Regions from separate parts of the Homo sapiens genome. Here region 1 is linked to region 2. The links come from fine-mapping of genetic effects on gene expression. A gene starts in region 2. The other region holds a variant in brackets. All regions are shown on one strand. Distances are from middle to middle.

The links. PIP is the estimated chance that this variant, and not a neighbour inherited with it, causes the effect.
Region 1: its variant is fine-mapped to the expression of MAEA in whole blood (TOPMed, PIP above 0.99).

The regions. Positions count from the first base shown.
Region 1 is chr4:1,324,339-1,339,152 of GRCh38, reverse strand. MAEA (macrophage erythroblast attacher, E3 ubiquitin ligase) reads right to left here. Exons shown (of 9, transcript NM_001017405.3): 5 at 11,450-11,526; 6 at 6,288-6,396; 7 at 2,159-2,292; 8 at 536-731; 9 at 1-79. Among named protein-coding and RNA genes, the nearest start is that of UVSSA, 15 kb to the left of the region's middle. RefSeq lists enhancers at 12,080-13,279, 14,454-14,814. The variant G/A (reference allele first, on the strand shown) is at 8,549.
Region 2 is chr4:1,281,025-1,295,838 of GRCh38, reverse strand. MAEA (macrophage erythroblast attacher, E3 ubiquitin ligase) reads right to left here and starts at 5,948. Exons shown (of 9, transcript NM_001017405.3): 1 at 5,857-5,948. The coding sequence starts at 5,925. It overlaps LOC105374347 (a long non-coding RNA gene), which reads left to right and starts at 6,268. Exons shown (of 3, transcript XR_925046.3): 1 at 6,268-6,954; 2 at 8,631-8,713; 3 at 9,391-9,475. LOC105374346 (a long non-coding RNA gene) reads right to left here and starts at 8,236. Exons shown (of 2, transcript XR_925043.3): 1 at 8,116-8,236; 2 at 7,545-7,813. RefSeq lists an enhancer at 58-1,021 and silencers at 4,367-4,549, 5,638-5,917, 6,018-6,427.

The DNA.
Region 1 (14,814 bases), 43 kb before region 2:
TCTCGGCTTGTGAGAAGTGGAAGACTTCTTTGGTTCTCGGGCACACGACTTTATCATCTTGACGGATAGAAAGCAGAGACTGAAAAATAAAACCGGGAATGCATTAAGGCAAGCGACTACAACGTACACACGGATTTCCATGGAAAATCCCCACAATGAACCACCAGGGAATGACTCATCCTCTCAGGCAAAGTTCCTTCCCGAAGGCACACCTGCCAAAGAAATCCCGGGGCCACCTCGCCTGTCCTTCCCACCCCTTCATCCATTTCGAACGAAGCTAAGGCAGGGTGGGGCGAGAGGACAGCCCTGTCCCAATGGCGACGTGTGCCAGCCTGGCCCCGCTGCCCTGCCCGCCCCACACAGCCCTGTCCCGATGGCGACGCGTGCCAGCCTGGCCCCCCGCCCTGCCCGTCCCACACAGCCCTGTCCCGATGGCGATGCGTGCCAGCCTGGCCCCCCTGCCCTGCCCGTCCCACACAGCCCTGTCCCGATGGCGATGCGTGCCAGCCTGGCCCCCCTGCCCTGCCCCCCTCACATTGTAGCCGTAGACGTAGCCGTTGGGCAGCATCATGGGCGGATTGTTCTCGTTCATCACGTCGCCAGAAATCTTGCAGACCAGGCGGGAGTTGGCACAGTGGGCCATGGGCAGGGGCTGCGCCAGCTTGTTCAGGGAGCGGCTGCACACAGGGCAGTCAGGGCTCTTGGAGCTGCCGTCCTCCTTGTAGCACTGTCTGAGCATCGGGTCAAGGAAGGGTTGGGGGCCACTCAGGGCAGCCGGGGTGAGCCCAGCCCCCTGTGGCCACTCTGCCCTGGGCTGCGTGCCCTTCTGGCTATGTGGGCGCCATGCTGACTACACGGGGCTGTCTTTCGAGGCACAGGAAGTGCTGCACTCGACAGCTAAACAGCCCCACTGAGGCCTCGGTGGAGACAAGAAGCCTGCGCCTTCTCACCCCGGCCTCCAGCACCAGGACCACAGGCACAGAGTGGCTCCGTCGCCCGCCGCCCTCTCCCCGGCCACGCAACCTCTCCAGGCAGGACAAGAGCCACCCAGCAGGGACGTTCTGCTGGCACCTAGGAACAGGCAGTGGGCAAGCACGCCAGCCCTCTCGCCCAGAGTTCCACAAAGAGGGGACAAGGGAGGGGGCCTGAGTCTCATTCATACCCCGGCACAGCCAGGTACCAGCAGCAATCGCGAAACACTCACTGCCCTCTGGGCCTGAGGCAGGTCACATGAAAGACATTCATAGGCGGGGACAGAGTCAGTTGCAGGAGGACAGTCAGTCACAGGTGGGGACAGAGTCAGTCACAGGTGGGGACAGAGTCAGTCACAGGAGAGGGCAGAGTCAGTCACAGGCAGGGGTAGAGTCAGTAAGAGGCTGAGTCACAGGCAGGACGGAGTCAGTCACAGGTGAGACAGTCACAGGGCAGGGGCAGAGTCAGTCACAGGCGAGGACAGAGTCACAGGCGGGATGGACTCAGTTGCAGGAAGGGACAGACTCAGTCGCAGGCAGGGGCAGAGTCTGTCACAGGCAGGAAGAAGTCAGTTGCAGGTGGGACAGAGTCAGTCACAGGAAGGAATCAGTCACAAACGGGACAGACTCAGTCACAGGCAGGGCCACAGTGAGTCGCAGGCAGGGACCAAGTCCGTTGCAGGCGGGAGCCGAGTGAGTCACAGGCAGGAACTCAGTGAGTCGCAGGTGGGACAGAGTCACAGGCAGGATGGAGTCAGTCACAGGCAGGGACAGAGTCACAGGCAGACAGAGTCGGTCACAGGTGGGACAGAGTCAGTCACAGGCGGGACAGAGTCAGTCACAGGCAAGGTTCTTGGTAATCACACGGGAAAACTATTCTGAATGGTAATCTGCCGGCTGCCAGAACACATCAAAATCGGGCTTTTAGATCAATGCCCATGGCGGCCTCTGAGATGATGAGAGAGGAAGCGCGCCACTTCCCAGAGTGAAGGCTGCACGACGCATCCGAGGCCCCTCAACACGGCCCCACCCCGACCATCCAGACACCACGCAAGTGCAGCACACGGGAGCTCGGGGCTGTCTGTGGTGGGAGGACAAGAGTGGCAAGGTGCAGGGTCAGCGTGTTAAAATATGACCAAAGATGCCAACCCCAGGCCAAACCGCACTGCGCACGGGAGGTAGGATACGGTGTCTTGATGGCTGAGAGGCCAGCCTGCAGGGTGAGGGTGAACACAGAATTGTTTCCCAGCTGGTGTAGTCGGTAGTTGTCGTACCGGAACTGCTGGATCAGCATCCGCCACCGTGCAGGGTCCAGAAGGTCCTGGAAGACAGAGAGCAGAGGGTCCTGGGGATGCTCCCAGGGAAGCTCCTGGGACAGCTTAAAAACGTGGACCATGGTGAAGCAGGTGCCATCGGCCCACAGCCATCCCCCAGTGACCCACACACTTTGCACTAAGGGTCAGCACAAAGCATAACTCCCTCAAGTGTTGACTGATACACACAGTGGGATGAGTGCTGACTTAACTATGATTTCAACATGCTGCGGGATGAGTGCTGACTTAACTCTGATTTCAACATGCTACAGGGTCAGTGCTGACTTAACTCTCTGATTTCAACACACTGCGAGGCCAGTATGAACTTAACTCTGATTTCAACATGCTGCGGGACAAGTGCTGACTTAACTCTGATTTCAACACACTGTGGGATGAGTGCTGACTTAACTCTGATTTTAACATGCTGTGGGGTGAGTGCTGACTTAACTCCGATTTCAACATGCTGTGGGGTGAGTGCTGACTTAACTCTGATTTCAACACACTGTCGGGGGAGTGCTGACTTCTCTGATTTCAAAATACTGTGGGGCCAGTTCTGACTTAAGTCTCTGATTTCAACACGCTGTGAGGCCAGTGCTGACTTAACGCTCTGATTTCAACACCTGCAGGACAAGGGCTGACTTAACTCTGATTTCAACACTCTGCGGGACGAGTGCTGGAACTCTCTGATTTCAACATGCTGCAAGGCCAGTGCTGATCTAACTCCCTGATTTCAACATGCTGCGGGATGAGTGCTGACTTAACTCTGATTTCAACACACTGCAGGGCAGGTGCTGACTTAACTCTGTGATTTCAACACACTGCAGGGCAGGTGCTGACTTAACTCTGTGATTTCAACACACTGCAGGGCAGGTGCTGACTTAACTCTGATTTCAACACACTGCAGGGCAGGTGCTGACTTAACTCTGTGATTTCAACACACTGCAGGGCAGGTGCTGACTTAACTCTGTGATTTCAACACACTGCAGGGCAGGTGCTGACTTAACTCTGATTTCAACACACTGCAGGGCAGGTGCTGACTTAACTCTGTGATTTCAACACACTGCAGGGCAGGTGCTGACTTAACTCTGTGATTTCAACACACTGCAGGGCAGGTGTTGACTTAACTCTGTGATTTCAACACACTGTGGGGCCAGTGCTGACTTAACTCTGTGGTTTCAACACGCCATGGGGCCAGTGCTGACTTAACTCTGTGATTTCAACACACTGTGGGGGCCAGAGCTGACTTAACTCTGTGGTTTCAACACGCCATGGGGCCAGTGCTGACTTAACTCTGTGATTTCAACACACTGTGGGGCCAGTGCTGACTTAACTCTGTGGTTTCAACACGCCATGGGGCCAGTGCTGACTTAACTCTGTGATTTCAACACACTGTGGGGCCAGTGCTGACTTAACTCTGATTTCAACACACTGTGGGGCCAGTGCTGACTTAACTCTGATTTCAACATGCCACAGGGCTGGTGCTGACTTAACTCTGCTACACTCACTTGTGAATCAACTTGAATGATCTGGAATGTGTGCAACCTGTGCACTGTGACAAAAAATAGACTCACACAGCTGGAAGGACAGCTCAGTGCAGAGTGCACCTCAGAGCATTAGGTGTAAAAACTCTTACTTCAGAGAAATCATGTATGAAATGGAAAACAACCGGTCCATGTTAGGTTAAAGCATCACAGAACAGAAAATTAAACCTGATGAATGTCTGTCCCTAAATAACCTCAGGTTTAGACTTAAGAGAGAGAGCGTGTGTGAGCACAGGAGAGAAAAACCTTCACATCAACCCAGAAAGGCCGCTCAGTCTCTAGCTTGGGGGGAGACGGCCACACCTGGAGGGAGGGGAGGTGGTCATCAGGGGACGTCACCCATCAGTCTCTGTAAGCTTCTCAGTCTCAGTTTAGGGTAAACACCACACTTAACTCCAACATTTTTAAAGGCTGTTTTAAATCTCATTTTTGTCTAAAAATCAAAGTCTACAAGGGAGGAAGCCCACAGTCCAGAAGGTCCTCACTGAGAAGAACAGCTCCTGGCATCCTCACTCCCCAGGACTGGTTGCCTCTGGGCTTCTGGTGGCTTCTGCCATTCTCTGAACAAAATGCTTCCTTCTGTTTCTTGCCTGACCCATGGCAACGGGGCCCATTTTCCTGCCACGAGACACGGTTGTGCCCCCTGAATCTGGCAACAGATGAGCCTTGGGGCTGGCACTGCCTGCCTCCCTCTTTACCACACTGCAGGGCTGCGTCCGGTGAGAGGTGCATGCTCCACCCGGCCTAGGCCCGAAGTCTCAGCCCCCTGTATGGGTCAGCCTTTCCTGCATTTCTAACAAAATCCTCTCCAGAGCAAGCGAGAGAAACAAGGTGCCAACTCACAGTCTGGGAAGCTCAGACCCCACCCCTGAAGATCCTCGTGACCTAATGATGATTTATTATGAGATGCCCCAAACGCCTGAGAACCAGGAGAATTCAGGCTGAGCTTCCAGCAGCTTTCAGAAGGCAGCAGGTCTGGGACTGCCCAGGGCTTTGCAGTCCCTACAGGGTGGCAGGTGGGGGCTGCCGGGAAACACCCCGGCCTCTGACAGAGACTGGTGCCAGGCTCAGAGAACAAACTGTCAACTCCAGGAGGTTTTATCTGCTTCCCCCTTTTCCAGGAACTGAAACTGTTCCCAGTGTGATGAGCACAGGGGTGGGCATGGGGGTGGATGCAGGGGTGAGCACATGGTGGGCATGGGGTGGGCATGGGGGTGAGCACGGTAGGCATGGGATGGGTGCAGGGGTGAGCACACGGGCATGGGGGTGGGTGCAGGGGTGAGCACATGGTGGGCATGGGGTGGGCATGGGGGTGAGCACGGTAGGCATGGGATGGGTGCAGGGGTGAGCACACGGGCATGGGGGTGGGTGCAGGGGTGGGCACATGGGCACGGGAGTGGGCATGGGGGTGAGCACAGGTGGGCATGGGGGTGGGCATGGGGTGGGTGCAGAGGTGAGCACGGGCATGGGGGTGGGCAGGGGGGTGAGCACACGGTGGGCATGGGGTGGGTGCAGGGGTGGGCACATGGGCACGGGAGTGGGCATGGGGGTGAGCACAGGTGGGCATGGGGGTGGGCATGGGGTGGGTGCAGAGGTGAGCACGGGCATGGGGGTGGGCAAGGGGGTGAGCACACGGTGGGCATGGGGTGGGTGCAGGGGTGGGCACGGGTGCAGAGTGGAGCCACTCACCCAGGAGCAGCCAGCTGCTGGGTTGGGGCCAGGTCTGAGCACAGGGTGCCTGGTTAGTGATGGCAGAACCCCCAACCCTACCCCAGTGACCGCGGAGAGTCGGAGGCTCCAATATTTACAGATAAAATACAAAGCGTCAGCAAGAGAAAGAACCACGGAAGACGGTGCAGCCTAACTCCTGACTCAGGGGCTGTAGAGAAAGGAGAACCAGGGGGACAGGCAAGGAAGCTGGGCCCCGGCTGAACGCTCCAGGCTGAAAGGCTTCCTGAACCTTTCTCAACTGCTTTTTTTTTTTTTGGAGACAAGGTCCTGCTCTGTCACCCCAGCTGGAGTGCAGTGGCACAATCTTGGCTCACTGCAGCCTCAACCTTATGGGCTCAAGTGATCCTCCCACCTCAGCCTCCTGGGTAGCTGGACTATAGGCAGGTGCTACTATGCCCAGCTAATTTTCAAAAAAATTTTTTTTGTAGAGGTGGGGTCTCACTATGTTCCCCAGGCTGTTCTCAAACCCCTGGGCTCAAGCAGTCCTCCCACCTCAGCCTCCCAAAGTGCTGGGATTCCAGGGGTGAGCCACCACACACAGCCCTGATTCAAATTTCTTATGAGCAAAATGGGAGTCAAACAAGAAAAGCTTGTCTTGGCAGGCTGGACAGGCTGTGTGGCTGGGATGGGGCCCTCACGTCCCGCCCCACGTGTGGAAGCAGCTACAGACCAGAGACACACCCTGGATCCCCACCCCAGCATGACACCGACCCCAGGGACGCACGCCCTACCTTGTACGGGGAGATGTGCGTGTCGGGCGGGAAGGCCAGCATGCCCATGGCCTGGCGCACCTCGTCCAGCTGGCTCCCTTCTGCTTGGCTGAAGTGCTTTCTTGCATGTCTAAAAAACAACATTTTGGCACATTTAAGTTTGCGTTTTAATTTTAACTTTTAGAGACAGGGTTTCACTCTGTCACCCAGGCTGCAGTGCAGTGGCACAGTCACAGCTCACTGTAGCCTCGAACTCTCAGGCTCAGGCGATCTTCCCGAGAAGCTGAGACCGCAGATGTGCAGCACCACACCTAGCTAATGTAAAAAACATCTTGTTAGAGACAGATTCTCGCTGTGTTGCCCAGGCTGGTCTCCAACTCCTGGGCTCAAGCCATCTTCCTGCCCCGGCCTCCCAAAGTGCTGGGATTATAGGCATGAGCCGCTGCACCCGGCCTGCATTTTTAAGTTGAAAAATCTGAGCTAACAGCTTTTATGTCAGAGTCTAGGTACAAAGTAATCGCCTCACTCCAAGCCGACCTGCTGGGTGGGGCTGGGATGGCGGGAGGTGCGGCTCACCAGAGGCTGGAGGAGCAGCTACCAGACACTCCTTCCTCCAGGGGACCAGGGCACCCAAGCCACACAGACAACCCACGGAAAACACCAGAACTGCAAATGGCACCTGCCCCCGAGGGCTCTCCAAAGCGATTCTGGTTTACAAGGAACCCAAACCCTGAGGATTCCCACTCTCCCCAGATGCTCGCCCCCACGGACCCCGTGGCCCCAGCGGACCAAGAACGTGTAGTCTTCTCAACTGCAGTCCTTGCTGTTTGGCAGTGACGCCCAGCACAACCTTCCGAAGAACAGCCTCCCTCAGCCCACAGGCTGGACTCCCTGCAGATCCGGCCCAGCCCTCTCAGCCCTGAGCGTGCCACACACCACATGCAGCCACGATCTTTCCTGAGCCAACTCTGCGGGATGCACACAGGCCTACTCCAGGCCAGAACCCCACTCCAGTCTAAGGCTGGGCAACCAAGAAACCAAAGCAGAACATAACAGATCCCTTTCAAGCTGACCAGCGGGCACCTGCTCACCCCCAGGGCCCCCATTCTCATGCCCCCCCCCACACACAGGGTCACTGTCCCTCTGGCTGTCCTGAGGGCCTGCACCCCCATGTCCTGACCCTCACACGGGCCCCTGTGCACCCCACGTTCTCAGCCCTCAGGGCCCCTCTGCCAAAGCGACCCCAATGCACAGAACCAGGGGCCTCAAGTCCCATGTGTGAGTCAGCCCTGTGCTGTCCAGAACAAGGCATGTACCAAGGAACACAGGGCTGAGGAGGTGCCAGGCGCTCACGGTGGCCTTGGAGAAGATGCAGTGTCTCGCAGAGACTGGAGTTAGTGTAGGAGGTGGCCCAGCAGCCCCTTGATGGATAGCACGGGGACCACGTGTTGGAAGCACCACCAGGAGAGCCCGGGGCAGCAGGGAGTGGGGGGCGTCCACGCTTGGGACCCAGCCTGGGGAGTCCACATGGCTGACGCCCCAGGGCCTGTGCAGGGCCTGGGAGTCGGGGGTGAATCCACACGGCCGACCCCGCAGGGTGCATACAGGGACTGGGAGTCGGGGGTGAGTCCACACGGCTGACCCCGCAGGGTGCGTGTGCAGGGGCTGGGGACGGCCATCCGAGATTCCAGTGCCCATGCATCCCCCTCCTTGGAGCGTGTGGGTGGGCGTGGGTCTGAGTCCAGGAGGAGCCCCACCCAACCCCCTCATTCCATCTCTGGAGACAAGTCACCCTTCGTCACACGCCAAGACGTGCACAGAACACGGCCAACGGGCATCTCACCTCCTCCCAGAGCTGCTGAAGAGAGGAAATTTAATCTCCGTGGTTGACATCTACAAGATCTCATTTGCATGACCTGGTTTACGCGTCTTATCTCACCATCAATCAAACCCCAGACAGACATCATCCGCCTAACAAGCTGCCTCACCTCGCACCCCAGGTCCCTGATCCACAAATCCTGACCCCAAGACAGAAACAGAAAACCTAACAGTGGCGGCTGACTCTTTTCAGATCGTTTGATGCCAGCATTCAGCCCCAACACACAGAGAACTGCAGCCGAGATGTGGGGCCCTCAGAGCAGGTCCGGGGAGAACAGCACGGTATGCATCCACAGGACACAGGGGAAACAAAACCGTGACTTTTAACAAACTAAATGCAGCTAACATAAGAAACACAAAAACTTCCATTTTTCTTTAAAAATATAAACACACGGGCCAGGCAC[G/A]GTGGCTCACGCCTGTAATCCCAGCACTTTGGGAGGCCAAGGTGGGCGGATCACAAGGTCAGGAGTTTGAGACCAGCCTGGCCAACATGGTGAAACCCCATCTCTACTAAAAATACAAAAATTAGCCGGGCGTGGTGGTGGGCGCCTGTAATCCCAGCTACTCAGAGGCTGAGGCAGGACAATCACTTGAACCCGGGAGGCGGAGGTTGCGGTGAGCTGAGATTGTGCCAGGCAACAGAGCAAAACTCAACCTCAAAACACACACACACACACACGGAAAGAGAGAGAGAGAGAAACACCCAGAAGACAAAATTCCTAAACTGTGCCTGGCCAGGCTGAGGTGTGGGTGTGCGACAGACGGCACGGAGCTGCTCACACAAAGCCCATGAAGTACAGGCCAGGTCCCAGCCGCCTGGGGTCAGGGATTCACTTACTCATTTACTAAAAATTAAAGGCGTTAAAAGTTAATCACTAGCAGCTCATACTTTTGCATTTCGCAAAAACCCACAAATGCCCCAGGCAGGGCGGAGCTGCAGCCACCCCAGCCAACGAGGCCCCCTGCCCGGCCCAGCACGCTGGCTCCACAGACAGCAGGACTCACCTTGCCTGCCCCAGTGGACCCAGAGGCTAGGCTGCTGGCCTCAAGCCCTGTAGATGGTGCCCGACGCTCCAGCGCCATGTGGACCGTGAGTTCAGAGGTGGACGGGAAGCTCCTGCGGGCTGGGACCCTGGCAGCAGGTGAGAGGGCCCTGCCTGGAGCCCTCAGGAGACATGTGGCCAGGCTTCTCCGCCTTCCCTCTTGTCCAGCCTCAGTGAGTGATACACAACACCCTCTGGGCTCCCAGCCAAACACCCGCACTCCCTCACCCCACAAACGTCCTGCCGATGCCCCACCTGCCACCCCAGCCCAGCTCCCGTGTGCCTTGTGGGTGGCTCCAGGGCCACGCTGAGCTGAGGCCGGACTTCCCTGACCAGGCCCTGGCACCTGGAGAACCACTCCCAAGACGGCCCCAGCAGAGGATGTAGCTCACACTGCGCCTGCCCCCGAGACACTGGGGTGTTGTTTGCCATGCCTGCCCGGCTGGCTGCTGAGGCTTCGAGGCAGCACGTGTCTGCTTGCGGGAGGAAGGACACGCACTTCCTGGGACCTGCCTGCTCCCCTGCAACAGACGAGGCCGCAGAGGGCACAGCTCTGAGCTCGGCTCAGACATTATGAGGTGGAGGCCCCGCGAGTCTCTAGGGCAGATTCTACCCAGAGCAGGGGGAACAAGGCAAAGAGACCCTACACGGAGCGGGGGGAACACAGGCAAAGAGACCCTACGCGGAGCGGGGGGAACACAGGTAAACAGACCCTACACGGAGCCAGGGTAACACAGGCAAATAGACCCTATGCGGAGTGGGGGTAACAGGTCAACAGACCCTATGCGGAACCAGCTGCCACCTAGATGAAGACATCTGTGACGGAGGGACTCCGGGATGGACACGTTTTGTTTTCAGACTCCAGGGCTGACAGTGGCCGGGGCCCTCAAGGAGACGGAGGCTGACTCGGGATGGAAGCAGACTGCCGCCGGACAGAGGCCAGCGACACAGGCACCGAGGCCACACGGAGGCCAGAGCAGAGCGGGAGCCCCTCCTCTTGACAGGGGGCCCCTGGCCGTGTCCCCGCAATGCTCACACGCCACTCTCCACTGGCCCGGGTCCCGAGATCCCCGCTTTAGCCCTCTCAGGCACAGAAGGGACCTCGTTGCAGGCCTGGCTCCCTCGTGCGTGAAGACGAGGCCTGACCTGCCACCATGCGCCCAGGTCAGCATCAGGAGCCGGAGCAGGACCCCGGGCCTCTCCAGGGTCCACGCAAGGGCAGGGACTTGCCGCGGTTCTGCCGTGCGTCTTGGGGACCACCCTCAGCACCTCATCGTGAGACGCCCACTTCTCCAAATGGGCCTTCTGTGGAACACTCGGCCACCCGGCCCACTGCAGGTGGATATGGAGTCGCGGTCGGGTTTCTGTGGGCATGGACAGGTGCCCCCTCCTGGCAAACACACCTGCTGGGCACTCGCCCGGGAGCTGAGGGCCAGCCAGGCCCACACACCCCACACAGCAACTCAAGCGTCACCGCAAGGCTTGGCCGCTCAGGAACCTCCATGAAAGTGAGTGAGACGACCTAGCACTCAAGGAGCAGCCCTGCCCCGAGACGGGGTGAGCATGAACTGGCCGACACTGCCCAGGCCAGGGACCACTGCTGCCTGACGATGCCCACTCTGGGGAGCCAGCGGGAAGCCAGCGGACAGCCTCTCTTCCTTTGCAGACGCCGTGCACCCCAACTGGGCTGAGCCACAGTGACAGCCAGCATCCCCTTCTCAGGCCTGACCACCAGGGCGCCGCTGGCCTCAGCTCACTGCACGCCGCCCTTGGGTCGGAGACAGGCCGGAGAACCCAGAAGTGCCCTCATCACACGCTGTCAACATTCCCCGATGACTGTGAGGGACATTCCCAAGCTCAGGACGCTTGGAGCTACCTGAGGACCACACGTCAGAGACACTCCCATCTACTGAGGCTGGCGGCACTTTCCAATGTGGAAAGGGGGTGCCGGGAGCCTGATCCACGTGTTTTACGTGGACGGTCGGGACCTCAAAGCTGGTTCCCCTGGCAGCCACGGGGGTCTGGATGCCCACCTGGGGCCACACCTTGGCGGGGGCCCTGCCAGGCTCCAGGCCTCACTCCCCAAGTCCCATTCAGGAACAGTGGGAGAAGCAGCCACCTGAGCAGGCAGGGGTCAGACTCAAGACCCAGGGGACGACCCAGGGGACGTCCCAGGACCCAGACCACGACAGGGAGGGCTGGCAGGGGCCGCAGCCGAACATCCTGCCCTCCCTCGAGGAGACGCACGTCCGCAATGCCTACCTCACAGCGTCCAGTCTCTTATTCTGCCGGATGAGTTCAATGAACTCCTGGATTCTGAGGCTGAACTCCAGGCAGCTCTGAGGGCAAAGACAAGACGAGGGCTTAGACAGCACATCCCACAGAGCCCAGGTGCCCGGGTGCCGCACCCGCATGTCCACCAGCAGACCCCACAACCAAAGCTCTGAACCCCTCTCTCACAGGCACGGGGAAGGCAGGGCTGAGGCTGAAGCTGCCACTTTAACCTGCAGCAGACTTTCCAGGGAACACTGGGTTCTGAATGTGAGTCCCGCCCCCTGCTCCTGCAGCTGCGGTGGGGCGTGCAGCCGCCCAGCATTTCAACCCGAAGGCCAGGGCGCTCAGGGCGCTTCCAGGAGCACAGCTGGGAGGGCAGAGCAGCAGGTGCAGCTGCTGGAGCAAAGGCACCAACCCCTCTGCAAGGACAAAGCAGCTTCCTGGGTCCCGCCCTGAGGCCACTGCTTCCTCTACACTCCCACCGGGCCTCTGGACCCAACTATCCCGAATGTAGACTGGGTGCTGGCTTGAACCCGGGGCTGTTCTGGGAGAACGTGGGCAAGTCCTGTCCCGAGGCGCTGATGCCCCGGGTGGGGAGGAGACAGGGACCACATGTGGGGCTGCTGGCTGGTGCCTCACAGGGGCATGAGGCAGAGAAGCAAGCTTGGAGCAGGCAGGACCCAGGTCGGCAGGGCGGGGAGGAGACAGGGACCACATGTGGGGTTGCTGGCTGGTGCCTCACAGGGGCATGAGGCAGAGAAGCAAGCTTGCAGCAGGCAGGACCCAGGTCGGTAGGGCGGGGAGCGCCTGCACCGAGGTTATGGACGGGGGACCGCACAGACACCTGGCGAGAACATGGCGGGCAGAAGCCGGGGCCGGTGCCGAGGCCCCAGGCGGGTGGCACATGGAATGGAGGCCTGGCCCAGGGGACACTGAGGTCCTAGGTGGCTGTGAGGCCAAGGGGCGGCTCGCGTGAAGGGAGGGCGCTTCCAGGATGTGTAGAAGACGGAGAGAGGCCGAGTTGGGGCTGCTGGCTGAAGGCACTATGCCTGAGGCAGGGGCGGGGGTGGGGGAAGCTCCTGCAGGACCAAGTCCCACATGTGTCTGCCTATGAGCCTCTCACGTGCACCTAAGGGAAGCCCAACCCTCAATCTGAAATCTCAGCAACCTCAGTCCAACGTGGGCCGAGACTTGTGGCTGGGGTGGGGGCAGCGGCAACATTGACCGCAGTCATCCAAGATGAGACGCGGATTCTACGGAAGTGACATGTCCGTCTAAACCGTAAGATCTTCCGTGTGGTTTCAGGACATTCTCAGGGCTTCACCCCGGAAACAGGATATAGGCGTGGGCACCACGGAGCGAGTCTTGGGCTGGGGCCGCGTGTCACTCTGGGTTCACATGGCCTGGCTCTCAGGACGGCATGAACAGAAACTCCACGTGGCAGATGAATCCACCCCGGACCACTGCATTTAAGTTGAAGCTCATCACTTCCGCTTCCCAGAGCTTTCCCCACTGAGCTTTCTGAGGAGCCACCTGTGCTCCAGCCCACCCCGCCTGCCAGCCTTGCTGCCCCGACACGCATAGCACCCACAGCAGTGGCTCCGCGTGGGTGTGGGGAGGACTGGGCTGCCCAGACCCCCGGGGGCCACCTGCCTTCCAGGGGCTCAGAGGGGCTCAGGTCCCTGCCCTGCTGCCTCTGCCCTGTACCCTCAGCCCCTCATCACCCTGTGTCCCTAGACAGACGGGTCAACAGGCTGGACGCAGAACTCACAGGCTTGCTCCAAGCTGGGGCAGGAGGACTGTCTCTGACCCCAGCAGTGGCACAGGCTCTGGGTGGGGAGTGCCAGGCTTGGTACAAATCAGCCGAGAGGCACAAAGTCATCCCAGGGTCCCGAGTCCCCACCCCACTAATCAGCAGGCAGACTTCGGTCAGCACTCCGCTCCCTTCAGAGCCAGCCTGGCAGGAGAGGAAGGGAAGGGCCAGCGGGAAGAGATAGAGGCTCCCCACCAGGGCCCCACCTGCCTCCCAGGGGCTGCCTGATGGCTGCCGTGTCTAGAGCAGGCGAGTGCCGGGGCTCTGTCTAAAGGCAGGACGCAGCTGCCGAGGGGGTGCTCTAGAAGAGCAGGACTCTGGGCCCACTCTAGGTTACCGCTTCACACAATAGACACCTCAAACCTGCTTTTCAATAACACCTTTTGCTCTAGTAGGTTACTTTCAATTGGTCCACTAATATGTAAGTGTGTCTATGTCGTGAAACTTAGGTATTCAGACCCAAATCTAAAACACCGAGTCTACACTGTCCCATACGGCGTGGAGCGCCAACAAGGCTGTGCCCGCCCTGCGACAGGCGCCCACACTGATGGCTCCGTGTGGCTTTCGCACAGACGTGCAGCAAACAAATCACTGCTTCAGGGGCCTTCAGGGCCACTCACCCACCCATGCCTGTGAAATCCATCTCTCAGCCAGGTCAAACTTGGGTCTCAAGTTTCTTTTCCCATCTAGGTTCTCACAGCTGGTCCCAGGGACCCGTTAGAGCACAGTCTGGCTCCTCCTTGCCTCCCCACACACCCCCTGGCGTGCGTGCACATGTGAGCAGACTGCACAGACAGCCGTGTACCCCAACTGGCTCGGCCGCATCTCGTACCGGGCATGTTTTCGTGTCATTTGGAGTCTTCAGGGCGCATTTCTGGACAGCATCTAAATATGGATTCAGGCCCCGTCCAGTCTCGACTTCATCCAACACCAGGCACGCTCATCCAATCTCAACTCATCCAACACCAGGCACGCTCATCCAATCTCAACTCATCCAACACCAGGCACGCTCATCCAATCTCAACTCATCCAACACCAGGCACGCTCATCCACCAGGCATCCAATCTCAAATCATCCAACACCAATCTCAACTTTATCCAACACCAGACACACTCATCCACCAGGCATCCAATCTCAACTTCATCCAACACCAGACACACTCATCCACCAGGCATCCAATCTCAACTTCATCCAACACCAGACACACTCATCCACCAGGCATCCAATCTCAACTCATCCAACACCAGGCACGCTCATCCAATCTCAACTCATCCAACACCAGGCACACTCATCCAACCTCAACTCATCCAACACCAGGCACGCTCATCCAATCTCAACTCATCCAACACCAGGCACGCTCATCCACCAAGCATCCAATCTCAACTTTATCCAACACCAGGCACGGTCATCCACCAGGCATCCAATCTCAACTTCATCCAACACCAATCTCAACTTCATCCAACACCAGACACACTCATCCACCAGGCATCCAACCTCAACTTCATCCAACACCAGACACACTCGTCCACCAGGCATCCAA
Region 2 (14,814 bases):
GAGGAGGGCACAGGCGTGGGTGAGGGGGCACAGGCGCTGGGGAGGGGGGCACAGGCGCGGGTGAGGGGGGCAGAGGCACGGGTGAGGGGGCACAGGCGCGGGTGAGGGGGTACAGGAGCGGGTGAGGGGGGTACAGGTGTGGGTGAGGGGGTATAGGAGCGGGTGAGGGGGTACAGGAGCGGGTGAGGGGGGTACAGGTACGGGTGATGGGGCTCATCCACCACGGGTGTGGGAGCAGGTGCAGGTCAGGCAGGGTCTGCGTGACAGGCATGGGCGAGCATGAAGTAGGAGGGAAAGTCTGAGAGAAGGACAGGTATGAAAGGCTCGCCTGGGAGGAGAGGAAGGAGGCTGCTCTGGGCCCCTCCCTCGAGTGGGGCAGCACTCAGGGTCCCGGTCCGGGTCCACAGTCAGCCATCAGCACAGCAGGTGCTTTCTTCTGCTCAGCCACATTCAGCTCAACAGTCACTAAATGTGGTATTAACACAGTGAATAATTCTTTTTGTTCAGGTTTTCAAAATAATGGCCCCTAGCTATAACGATTCTGAAATAACAGACCTAAAAATCATCAGCAGTTACCCCGGCAGGAAGTGTGCTTTGCGATGCCTGGGTCAGCACCCAGACATCCCCACTCGGCCTGAAGCCCCCAGAGGGTGGGGCTCGCAGCACAGCCTCTCTGCAGACGGGGCAGTCACATGCTACAGGCACCGGCCGGCCTTGTCTTCATTCTGGTGCCAATGTGTCTCCTTGGGCTTGCTTCCCATTCTGCTGACCCCTGTACCCACAGACCGAGTCACTGCCCAGCACCCAGTCTCACTGTGAGACCCTCCCTGCACAGCTCTGGGACACCCCCAGCCACATCACCCCAATGGTGCTGTGTGCCTGTGTGCCTACTGGGGTGAGAGCCGGCCAGGACTTCAACACGGTCCACAGAGCCTCACCCCAAAACTTAGCTCCGCCAACCAGCTCACAATATCGCATTCACTGGAGGAAGCTCATCCCCACCCCCGCCCCTGCCCCTGCCCCTGCCCCCGGCCCCACCCCCGTCCCCTGCCACTGTCCAACATCACCTCAACCTCATCAGCGTCTTTAAAGGATCTGAGATGTCTGTGTGTGCTTGTGCTGATGCCTCCCTCCCACCGGAGCGTAGACAGGGGCCTCACTTGTCTCCCCATCATGCTAGCCCAGGGCCTGACTGTGCAGGGCCTGACCGTACCTGGCCGATGGAGGCTCTCAGACCACTGCTGCGGAGGGGGGTATGGGAGAAGCTAAGTGCACCTGCAGCCCTGCTCTGCAGCCCGGCGGCGGTGCCTTGCTTAGGTCCCAGGGCCGCTCCAGGCCTCACGTCAGTACTGCCTCCAACCTAGCCCAGCCATTACGGTGAATCAGGCATTAAAAAGCACTTTCTTGACTTGAAATGTGTTAAAAAAATAATACTTAAAAAAACAAAAACAAAACCAACCCCCCAGCTAGCAGTGAATTCAAGTCTACATCCTTATCTCAGCCTTGCCCAACCAGCTGGAAAGGCCCAGGCCTGGGAGGGAAGACCTGTGCCAGCGCGGAGGCCGCGGAAGCCAGCCCAGGGCCAAACCACCAGCAAACGGTGGGAGAGGCGAGGGGAGTGGAGCTGGGAGCCACAAAGGGCAGACCATGGCTCTTCTGGGCAGAAGGAATTTCCACTGTGCTCTAGAGACCGGGCGGATTCTGGAGGGCTGTGACGTTACTGCAGATAAAGTACATCGAAAAAGCCGGCCACAGAAGAGGTGGAGACCCGGCCTAAGACTCCTCAGACACGGCATCACCAGGGTCCAACCCAATGTGTGTGTCAGTAAGTCAAACGCTTCGTGGTTGCCTGTGTTTCTCACACTCGAGAACACATGATCCTCCCAAATCCAGCCAAGATGGAGTGAAGAAAACTACAAAAGGCGCAGGAGCAGTTACAACTTCAGCACACAGCTGGCACCCGAACTCCCTACCACAGGCACAGACCCAGGCTGTGAGGCATCAGGGCCATGCCTGGGCAACCAGACTGTCATCAAACCAAAGGCAGAACATGCAAATCTTCCTGTAGAGAATTCAGACACCTGAGAATGCAACCACAAGCCCGGTGTTTCTCAGCCTGTCCTCTGGGGAGAGGACAGCATCACCACCTTGGGTGTGAGAGGACTCACTGGAGCTGGGAACCCTTGCTGGGGCTCCAGGAGAGGAGAGGTGGGCCCAGGTGGGGTTCACAGAGAGGAGCCAGGTCCAGACCAGGGTCTCCAGGTGATGAACACCACTTCCCGCCCTGGGCTGTGCAGACACCCATGTGAAATTCTCTAAACTATTATTTTTCTTCGGCTATCTGAAGGGAAATAGTAGGAGTAAATACACCAAAATGTTAATGAAGTTCTCTCTGTGCAGCAGGGTAACTTGAAGAAAAAACAAATTACTTTTATTTATTTATTATTTGAGACAGGGTCTCACTCTGTCACCCAGGCTGGAGGGCAGTGGTGCAATCTCGGTTCACCACAGCCTGGATCTCCTGGCTCAAGTGATCCTCTCGCCTCAGCCTCCCAATTAGCTGGGACTACAGGCGCACACCACCGCACCCAACTCATCAAATTACTTTTATAATCAGAAAAAAAAAAACCTTTTACAAAATAATGAAAGCAAGGGCTTCCAATTCAAGATGGTGAACTATGCATGTTGAATTGAAAGATGGTGAATTCCTGAGGTCAGGAGTTCAAGACCAGCTGGACAACATGGAGAAACCACGTCTCTACTAAAAAATACAAAAAATTAGCTGGGCATGGTGGCGGGTGCCTGTAATCTCAGCTACTCGGGAGGCTGAGGTAGGAGAATTGCTTGAATCTGGGAGGCAGAGGTTGCAGTGAGCTGAGATTGTGCCACCGCGCTCCAGCCTGGGCAACAGAGTGAGACTCCGTCTCAAAAAAGAAAAAAAAAAAAAAAAAAGATGGTGAGTTATTCATCTTTCCCCTCCCCCACAAGGCATTACCCACCACCCTACACCGGACGGCGTTCACAGCATTTGACAGCAAAAAGACACAGCCACAGCCAGGACGCAAGGCTGAGTCCTCATGAGCCACACCTCCGTTTGGTAAGAGGAAGAAACAAGTCCCTTAAAGCAGGATCCAGCCCAGCAATTCTCAGGGGTGTGTGCATGCCCCCAGGGCACATCTAGCAATGTCTGAAGACATTTTGGGGGCATGCTCTTGGCATCTGGCAGGCAGACACCAGGGATGCTGCTAGACATCCTAGACTGCACAGCCCCCACCACCGACAAAGGCTCCTCCAGCCCAAACGTTCGCAGGCCGGTCCACCCCTTTGGTGGAAATAGAAGCTCATGACGACAGAGGTGCCCAAGGTCAGTGCGTGTTGGCTGCAGCAATTCACGTCTGTTCCATTCTCTTCCCACTTCACCAGGAAAATAGAAAAATAAGTACCTGCCAGGCACCCAGGAGCCCCACCAGCCGCCCTGACGCTGTGAGGAAGCAGACATCCCAAGTGTTACTGCTGAAACCCACCTAGGGCTACCAAGCCCTCTGAAGAGAAAGGAATCCCCTGTGAGTCTGTGGAGGACTCACATGGCAGGAAAGCAGTTTAACTATTACCAGGTGAAGATCCAGTCCAGAGCATGCCAGCTGCTACCACCCTGCAGGAGGACTTGCTCTCAGACTAGAGAAGCAGAACATCCACCCCCCACCTTCCACAACCCCGGTCCTGCAGCCCTCGGTCCCTTCTCTGACATCTGCACTGGCCCCTCCTGGAAACTGAAGAGTGCAGCTCTTGAGCTGTGAGCTCAGCATGTTCTGTTTAGTTCTATACCAATAAATGCTTCTAAATCAAGGATCCCTAGTTTCCCAGCAAAACACCTCCATTATCCACTAGGAATCACTCCTGAAAACTTCTATGAAAAAAAGTTTTAACTCAGTAGTGACACAAGTGTCAACAGAGAAATTATGACACTATAATATTTCTTTACCTGTATGACTATCTGCATGACTATTTTAATCAGAAGCTATGCAATCACTCTGGAATACAAATTACATTCACGATTACAAAACAGCAGAAGACCTGAAGAAGAATCCTTTCCGGAGACCTTCCATCTCCCTTCCTAGTTCCTTCAATACACAATGAAAGGATTTCTGGAAACTTTTCCTATCTAGTGTTTCCCACATTCACCAGCCAGTACCAGAAGTGACAAACCACCACGGTTCTGATCTTCAAACCTTCTTGTGTGTTAGCTGAAATGACAGGCCTGGAGGTGCACTGCGTGAGACAAAGTGGTCAGTGGTTAGGACTCCCTACTAATATCACCACAATGTCCTTGTATAGACTTCTCTCAGCTGCAGGGTCTCCATCTCTAAACCAACAGAGATCCACCAATGTCACTGAGTATTAAAAACCAACCACCTACATCTTGGAGGGATCTAGCAAGAGGCTAGACCTTTGGTAACGTCAGCAACATTGCCCTCCCTTCCTTGATCAAAAGAAGTGCTGGACACACAAGCACCATGAAACCCCACTGCGAAACCATTAGTGTGGCGGGCGCGTGGCTCACACCTGTCAGCCCAGCGCTTTGGGAGGTCAAAAGGCAGGAGGATCGCTTAAGTCCTGGAATCCAAAACCACCCTAGGCAACAGTGAAACCCCGTTTCTTTTTAAAAATATGAAATAAACCGCTAGTTAATAAAGAGGAGGAGAAGCTTGCTTCTGCTTTCCTATGAAGACCAGCTACAGCAGGGTACAGCCTGACTTCAGCAGCGCTAACTGTAGCAGGGACCTTTTAATGAATGCTAGGCACTGTTTGAAACAATACGTGGTCACTCATTTCACCCTGAGGTGACACAGGCGCTACCACTGCTTAAACCTGACAAGAATAAACAGTCACCAACCGGGCCCTGATGTCTCCCAGTAAGGACGAATACAGAGAAGCCTGATTCACACCCCAGCAGGATGGCTCACAGCCTGTGCTCTTCAGCCCTTCGCTGAACTGCCCTGGGGCTGGGGGAACGCACAGCAACCTGGCCATACTGCATCCTCCACACCTGTCGCCACACCGTCCGTCCTCAGACGGACGTGAACACCAGGGCGCTCTGGGAGGAGAGAGAAACTACGCAGCTCTCCAGGAAGGCAACACAGAACCACGAAGCTCAGCCGCAGCTCTAGGAAAGCTATGACCTTGATCTTTTAAGGAATTCCTTCCCAGGTGCTTCATATCAAATCCTCTACTAACTAGGTAAAGAACAAGTATCGGCTCCTTCTACTAGGAGCACAAATTTCATTCTAAGAAGTGCGACGTGGCTAGGTGACCACCCAAGGTCACGCAACCGGCAGCCGGACGGCAAGAGCTGTATTTCAGGTTTGGTGACGCCCATCAAAAAGGTCGCTGGGTGCCATCAGGCCGTGAGGTTTCTCCCTACAGTTCCTAACTAGCGACCGGCGCAGCCGGCACCTCCCAGCCCTGGGCTCCCGGGAGGGCGGCCGGGCACTGGCTGGGCACGCCGCGCACTCCGTCTGCCTGGGCGCCAGAGACCCCACGCCCCGCAAACTCCGGCTTCCACCCCAGCCCCAAATTCGCCACCCTTAGCGCTGCCAGAGTCGTCGCTGGCTCGGCTCACGCAGCTCTTCAAGCAGAGGGGCCACAGTCGGGCGCCTGGCAGGGCCAAAGCCGCCGCCCCCGCCACACCTGCCCGGCGCGGACCGGGCGCCCCTGAGAAGCCCGCACGGCCCCGCGAGGCCGCGCCCAGCTCCCGCCGCCCTCGCCGCTGGCCCTCCCGGGGCGGCCCCTCGCGGCCCGAGGGCACTGGCTGGAGACGCCTTCGCTGCCCTCAGCCTGCGCGGCGCAGGCGCCCACCTTGAGGGTCGGGTACTCCTGGACCTTCAGGGTCATGGACAACTGAGCCGCCGACTCCTGCACCGCCATCTTGAAGCGGCCAAAACATTAGCGGGCGGGGGACGCGCGAGCGCGCTGCACGCCGGGAAATGACGCCACGCGCCGGCCGGAGCAGGATGGGGGCGGGCCGATGCCCCTGCACCAATCGTATCCGCCCAGTCGGCCGGAGGCGGAAGAAGGCGCGAACCAATCACTGCCGGGTTTCCTCTCGTTCAGCCAATCAACGATAGCCCCGGCTGGCGGTTTCCACCTTGAATTCGCTACCGGGTTCAGGCCGCAGACGCCGGAGCTGGGGATGCTCCTGGCCCGGGGCGGGCCGATGGGGTGCGGGCTGCGGCCCGGGCGGGTGGAGCTGGGGCCGAGCGGGCTGGGGGACTTGGCGTCCGTCCAGTTACTTGGGGCTCCCGCGGGGTGGTCCCCTGTGGGTCCCTCGTGCCTGCGGTACCAAGGGCAACGCCAACAAAACGCCTGGCCGCATGCGCCTGTAGCCAGCTATTTTTCTTTGGCCTTATTTTGACCGATTTACAGCTGCTGGAATCCTGATGTGGAACCTCCGACTTCCCAACGGAAGAGGAAAGGCCCAGTACCTAAAACTGATTTATGGACAGAAACTCCCGAAGCATGAGAAGCGTGTGGCCTCTCCGCCCTCTCCTTGCAGGGCGGGCAGCGCTGGCATCCAGGTCGTGCGCTGCCTTCATTTCAGCCACTTCACATTCTCAGCCTTTCAAACACCACCCGTCTCCCTCCTTTCCAAAATAAAACTGAAATTAGATTTTATTAATTAGGAAATGACGTCCCAATTAAACCACCTTGTGTTTCACATAACACATTTCTAAACAACTTTTAAAATATTTGGTGTTTAAACAAAGGAAAAACATCTAAGGTGACACAGCGATGAAGGGAGAACCTCCGCTTGGAGGCTGCTACATGTTACAGCCGCAAGACATCCGACCCGCACTGTGGAATCTTTCTCTGTCTTACTTAAACAGGAGTTGGGACTAAGGAAAGTGTTATTCCTCAAGTGTGTGGCTGCAGACTCCAGTCTTTTAGACATTTGAAGTAAGTTTTACAGTGAGGTGCACAAATCTTAACTATACAGCTTTAATGAATTTTCACCCATATTTGCACTTTTATCTAACCGTGTCCTGGTTGAGATTTAGGACATTTCCCGTGGCACAGAAAGCTCCTCTGCCCCTTCCCGGGCTATATCCCCATCATTCTAACCCTGCTCCCCGTAACAGCGTTCCTGACCTTCCTATAGAGATGGAAGCATGCACTCTGTACTCTTTGCGTCCTTTCACGGTTCGCATCGTGTCTGCCACTCTCCGGGATGGTCCCAGTAGTACACAGGAGCACTGCAGCAGTTGGATGGACTGCACTCCTCTTAGAGACTGCCTTCACTTCACCAGGGATTCAAGATTAACCCAAAGGAAAGGACACGGGTTTCATTTCCATGGTAAAATGATCCTATCCTAGTACCATCTACAGTCAGAAATACTTAGGAATTATAAGGCAGAGGTTTGCACGTTGGAGAGGTTGTTTAACCCTCTACAACCTTTGAGTCATTCATTCTAGGTTTTCTTATGTTGGAAGATAAAACTGTATTTGAATTAGTCCTTTTGTAAACCAAAAAGTGTCTGAGACAGATCTCAATCAGTTTAGAAGTTTATGTTGCCAAGGTTAAGGATCATGACCAGTGACACAGCCTCAAGAGGTCCTCAGAACACATGCCCAAGGTGGTTGGGTTACAGCTTGATTTTATACGTTTTAAGGAGATGTAGGCATCAATCAGTACATGTGAGATTTACATTGGTCCGAAAAGGCAGGACAACACAAAGCACAGCGGGGCTTCCAGCTCACAGGTGGATTCAAAGATTTTCTGATTGGCATTTGGTTGAAAGAGTGCTTATCTAAAGATCTGGAATCGAGAGAAAGGAGCATCTGGGTTAAAAGGGGTTGTGGAGACCAACGTTCTTATTACATAGATGAAGCCTCATAGGTGGCCACCATTAGAAGCAATAGATGGCAAATGTTTCATATCTAGATCTTAAAAAGCTGCTAGACTTGGCCGGGTGCTGTGGCTCACGCCTGTAATCCCAGCACTTTGGGAGGCCGAGGCGGGCGGATCACGAGGTCAGAGATCAAGACTATCCTGGCCAACATGGTAAAACCCTGTCTCTACTAAAAATACAAAAATTAGCTGGATGTGGTGGCACTCACCTGTAGTCCCAGGTACTTGGGAGGCTGAGGCAGGAGAATCACTTGAACCTGGGAGGCAGAGGTTGCAGTAAGCCAAGATCACACCACTGCACTCCAGCCTGGGTGACACAGCGAGACTCCTAAAAAAAAAAAAAAAAAAAAAAAAAAACAAGAGCTGCTAGACTCTCAGTTAACCATTAACTTCTTCAGAATCAGAAAAGACCCGGAAAGGAAGGGCAAGGGATTCCCTACAGAATGTAAATTTCTCCCACAAGAGACAGCTTTGCAGGGCCCTTTCAAAATATGTCAAAGAAATATATTTTGGGGTAAAACACTTTGATTTCCTTCAAGGCCAGCTATCTGTCATGTGATGCTCTACTAGAGTCAAGTTGGAATTTGGCATCTTATTGCTACAGAGTCTGTTTTGTCAGTCTTAAGATCTCTGTTTTAATGTTAATGCTGGTAAGTTTTGTGCCTGAACTCGAAAGGGAGGAGGGGATACTGAGGCATGTCCAACTCTCCCTTCACGTTAATAGTGGCAGGAGGCAGACCGAGCAGTTACCCAGTGAAACCCGACCTTCAAGCCGAAGACAGTTTAAAGCCGACCTACAAGTCCCAGGTAAATCCATGGACTAGATTGGGAACCTGTCTTCCTGCCTGGCATGCTTTCCTCTGATTGGTCCCCACCCTTCACCTATTTTACATATACCTATCCTTCCCTAATTGGCTTTTTGTTTGTTGGTTGGTTGTTTTTTTGGTTTTTTTTTTTTTTGAGATGGAGTCTCGCTCTGTCTCCCAGGCTGGAGTGCAGTGGCACGATCTCGGCTTACTGCAAGCTCTGCCTCCCAGGTTCACGCCATTCTCCTGCCTCAGCCTCCCGAGTAGCTGGGACTACAGGCACCCGCCACCACGCCCAGCTAATTTTTTTTGTATTTTTAGTAGAGATGGGGTTTCACCGTGTTAGCCAGGATGGTGTCAATCTCCTGACCTTGTGATCCACCCACCTCAGCCTCCCAAAGTGCTAGGATTACAGGCGTGAGCCACCGCACCCAGCCCCTAATTGCTTTTTACACTGTTGTCCCCACCTTTGAGTGATGCCTTTGTTTTAGCCATTTTTGCATCCTCACAAACCAATCAGTGTGCACTCTGAGCCCATGAAAGCCCCAAACCCAGCCACATGGAGAGAGAAACCATCCGACTTCAGGTGGGGGACCACCCTCACATCCCTGCTCCACTGAGAGCTGCTTTGTCACTCAATAAAATTCTTCTCCATCCTCCTCACCCTTCAATTGTCAGTGTATCATCATTCTTCTTGGACGTGGGACAAGAGCTCAGGATGCACCAAATGTGAATACAGAGAAGGCTGTAACTCCATAACCCTTTGCCCTTCACCAGCAGAGGGCAGCCACCCCATGTGACAGAAGCAGCAGTGGGACTGAGCCAGCCCTGGAGCCATGGGCTGATGCGGGGCAAGCGGCTGACAGAGCTGTTGACGCACCACTGTCCATCAGGATGCAGACTAAAAGAGCTAATTAGCATGCTGTAACACCCCCTCTGGGGCTTCAGGATCACAGCACCCCTACCTGGGCGCCACCGTGTTCCCCTTGTCTGGACGCCGGAGTCCACCATGGGAGTGGCTTGCAACATGCCTGGTCCAGCCACAAGCCCTGCATGGAGCCTGCGTCTGTGCTGACACTTGGAACCGTTGGCTGGACCCCGCACTCACTCGCTCACACCCCCTCCCACTGGGGGCTGAGTGCACAGTCGGAACAGCCGCAAACGCTGGAGTGCGGGCCTGGCATGACATGATGGGCCAAGTGAATGGGCATCTCCTGTGGCAAACCTGGGCCTGAGCAAGGGTGTCGCTGGCTGGGGGTCTCTGGCTGACAAGTGACCAAGAAAAGTCATGCGCCGCCATCGTGTCCTGAACTGATTTTTCAGGTTTCTTTGAAACCCCCTTGGCTGAAGGTGGGGGTAGGGGGTTCCATTCAGTCAGTTGGGGGAGCTTAGTATCTTATTTTTGGTTTATATAACTTGAAATTGTCCAGCTGTCAGACTCTGCCACCAACTGGCTATCCTACAATCCAACCCCATTCACACTCACTCGCAGAGTTAGCACAGACCCCACAGGCCAAGGGCTCCGTTCCACAAGGCTGTCCCCACTCCAGGTGACGGCTGCACATGGGGTGCCCAGGCCACCCACAAGGCAGATGACACATTTGGGGCTCCCACAAACCCTTCCTCAGGTTCAATAATTTGCTAGAATGACTCACAGAGCTCAGGAAACACTTAATGCTTCCCAGCTTATTATGAAGGACACAGCTCAGGAATAGCTAACGGGAGTGCATCGGGCATGGTGGGGCGAGGAGCTCCCAAGCCTTCTCTGCGCGGCAGCCGCTCAGCACTTCGGGGCATCCACCAGCCAGGAGGCTCTCCTGAATCTCATTATTCACACATTTTCATATCTCAATCCCCAGCCCCCCTCATCCCCAGAGGTGGAGGTGGAGTGGGAGAGGGGCTGAGAATTCCTGCCAACCAATCTCCGGGTCTTTCTAGTGATATCTGGAGGCCCCACCCAGAGTCACTTCATTAACATAAACTCAGGTGTGGTGGGAAGGAGTTCCTTATGAAGAAAGAAGACGCTCCCACACTCAGGAAATCGCAAGGGTTTTAGACACTTGGTGACCGGAACCAGGGACCAAGACCAAATATACTTTTTGTCGTAGTATAGCATTCAACAGCTGCCATGTTCTGCGTCTCTTGGTTCAAACTTCCAAAATCTTAGGCTCCAAAGTCTTGCCCAGTGTGGGTTGGCTGTCCATCTGGACTAATCAGCTATGCCAGGGATGAGCTGTGGGGCACACGTGGTTCCCTTGTGTGGGTGGGCCAGGAGCACGCAGAGAAAAGCAGCCCAGAGACGGATGGTGCTGGGTGCCTCCTGCATGGCCGTGTGGGAGGACCTGACCTGTGGCTCAGGGACGCACTGTCATAGCCAGCTCACATCACATGCTGCAGGGGGTCCACATCCTGGGGCCCTTCTTATCTCCACTGATGGACGGACGTCAGGGCTCTGCTACTTAAAGGTAACCCCCTCAAGTTCGAGGGGGTGACTCTGCCCCAAGCTGCACGACACAGCCCTTCCTCTCACCCAGCCAGATCCGTTTTCTGCGCTGGAGTTGCCCCTGTCGTTATTTTGATCCACACATCTCTTAGGAGGTGGTTAACACCTGCTGAAAAACTTAATTCTTGAATGAATGAAACATGTACCTCACATCAGGTAACAAGATTTTACACAGTTCACTGTTCTGTTGGTTTTTATTTATTTATTTATTTATTGAGACAGAGTCTTGCTCTGTCACTCAGGCTGTAGTGCAGTGGCACGATCACAGCTCACTACAGGCTCTACCTCCCGGGCTCAACCGATCCTCTCACTTCAGCCTCCTGAGTAGCTGGGACTACAGGCATATGCCATCATGCCTAGCTAATTTTTAAAGTTTTTTTGCAGAGACAGAGTTTCACCATGTTGCCCAGGCTGGTCTCAAACTCCTGGGCTTGAGCACTGACTGTTTTGTTGGTAAGAAAATAGCATCTGATTTTCCCTTAAAAGTATTTAGTAATACAAACTATAATTAGTTCCTATGGTTAGCTGTAGAGGTGGAATCGACTCAAGCCACACAATTGTTATCTTCACAACATCTGTTTGTAAATGTCTCCAGTAAAGGCCTCCCGGCTCCCTGGAGGAGGAGGCCGGACACCTGCCAGTGCTGGACGGTGGCCTCCCTGCTCCCAGGTGGGGCCCAGCCAAGGTGAGTGCTTGAGGTAGCTTCGGTTGGGCCAAGCATCTTTTCCTCTGGATAAATACCCAGTAGTGGAATTGCTGGATGGTAGTTCTACTTTTAGTTTTTTGAGAAATTCCACTGTTGGTGGAGGGACTTCCCACTGTTAACCGGTACAGCCATCACTAATGTACACGCCCACCCACCGTTCCCACGGTTAACCAGTACAGCCATCACTATTGTACACACCCACCCACCGTTCCCACGGTTAACCGGTACAGCCGTCACTAATGTACACACTCACCGTTCTCACTGTTAACCGGTACAGCTGTCACTAATGTACATGCCCACCGTTCTGTTAACCGGTACAGCCGTCACTACTGTACATGTCCACCCACCATTCCCACAGTTAACCAGTACAGCTGTCACTAATGTACATGCCCACCGTTCTGTTAACCAGTACGACCGTCACTAATGTACACGCCCACCCACTGTTCCCACGGTTAACCAGTACAGCCATCACTACTGTACACACCCACCCACCGTTCCCACAGTTAACCGGTACAGCCGTCACTAATGTACACACTCACTGTTCTCACTGTTAACCGGTACAGCTGTCACTAATGTACACGCCCACCCATTCCCACGGTTAGCCGTCACTACTGTACACACCCACCCACCATTCCCACGGTTAACCAGTACAGCCGTCACTAATGTACACACTCACTGTTCTCACTGTTAACCGGTACAGCTGTCACTAATGTACACGCCCACCCATTCCCACGGTTAGCCGTCACTACTGTACACACCCACCCACCGTTCCCACGGTTAACCGGTACAGCCGTCACTAATGTACACACTCACTGTTCTCACTGTTAACCGGTACAGCTGTCACTAATGTACATGCCCACCGTTCTGTTAACTGGTACAGCCGTCACTACTGTACATGTCCACCCACCATTCCCACAGTTAACCAGTACAGCCGTCACTAATGTACACGACCACCGTTCTGTTAACCGGTACGGCCGTCACTAATGTACACGCCCACCCGCTGTTCCCACGGTTAACCAGTACAGCCATCACTACTGTACACACCCACCCACCGTTCCCACAGTTAACCAGTACAGCCATCACTAATGTACACGCCCACCCACCATTCTCACTGTTAACCTGTACGGCCATCACTAATGTACACGCCCACCCACCGTTCCCACTGTTAACCGGTACAGCCGTCACTAAAATACACGCCCACCCACCGTTCTCACTGTTAACCGGTACGGCCGTCACTAATGTACACGCCCACCCACCGTGTGTGAGAGCTCCCTTTCCTCAGCATCTTCAGCAGCATCTGTTATTTTTTGTCTCTCTAATAAGAGCCCGTGTAACTGGGGTAAGATGACGTCTCGTCGTGGTGGTGACTTGCCCTTCCCCGATGCTTAGAGGTGCTGAGCATTGTTTCATACACCTGTTGGCTGTTTGTCTGTCTTCTTTTGAGATATGTTTATTCCCAAAATAGACATTTCTATTTTGGGGGCTAAAAGTGCCCTCAGGCCACTTTCTAGTGGGATTTTTTTTTTTATTGTTGCTTGAGTTCCTTGTATACTCTGGATTTTAGTCCCCTGTTGGATGAATAGTTTGCAAATATTTTCTCCCATTCAACAGGTCGTCTCCACCCTCTGTTGACTGTTTCCATCATAGTGGGTTTTTTTGGGTTTTTTTTGAGATGGAGTCTTGCTCTGTCGCCCAGGCTGGAGTGCAGTGGCACAATCTCAGCTCACTGCAGCCTCTGCATCATGGCATTTATTTTATTTTATTTTATCTTATTTATTTATTTTTTGAGTTGGAGTCTCACTCTGTCGCCAGGCTGGAGTGCAGTGGCGTGCTCTCGGCTCACGGCAACCTCTGCCTCCCGGATTCAAGTGATTCTCCTGCCTCAGCCTCCCGAGTAGCTGGGATTACAGGCGCCCACCACCACACCCGGCTAATTTTTGTTTTTTTGTTTTGTTTTGTTTTTAGTAGAGATGGGGTTTCACCATGTTGGTCAGGATGGTCTCAATCTCTTGACCGTGTGATCCACCCACCTCAGCCTCCCAAAGTGCTGGGATTACAGGCGTGAGTCACCGCGCCTGGCCCACATCATGGCATTTTTAAAATTCATCATTTAATGTCATTCTAAGTAAAGAAAAATAAGCAGTTATTCACACGAATTGTAGTGTTCATCGTCACCTAACGCTAGTTTTATTTTTTATTTTTATTTTTATTTATTATTATTATTTTTGAGACGGAGTCTTGCTCTGTCACCCAGGCTGGAGTGCAATGGTGCAATCGTGGCTCACTGCACCCTCCACCTCCTGGGTTCAGGCGATTCTTCTGCCTCAGCCTCCTGAGTAGCTGGGACTACAGGCGCCCGCCAACTATGCCCGGCTAATTTTTGTATTTTTAGTAGAGAGGGGGTTTCACCCGTGTTAGCCAGGATGGTCTTGATCTCCTGACCTTGTGATCCGCCCGCCTCAGCCTCCCAAAGTGCTGGGATTACAGGCGCGAGCCACCGCACCCAGCCTGTCCAACGCCAGTTTTAAGTGCAAACATAAGCAAATCATAGTGTTCACCATCATTTGTCTGACGCCAGTTTTAAATGCAAACGTAAGTGCTTTAGTTCGAACTCTGCGTCACCAAACTCACGAGGCCTGTGCTTCCCAGCTCGATTGCACAGACCTGTTTTGTTCTTCTTCATGGAGTGCTGCATGAAGCTAATGCAGCTGTGATTTCATTTCTGATGTGCACATATTTTACCAATGCCCTCTACTTTTACTGACAAGTAAGGGGTGTCTGGAGGGAAAAGGAACTGTGGGTTGCCTCATCTTTCCTCCTGTCCACCATGTTCAGCACACGCAGTTCTAACGTGAGGAAGTCCCATGCGTAAGAAGTACATGATGGGGTATGT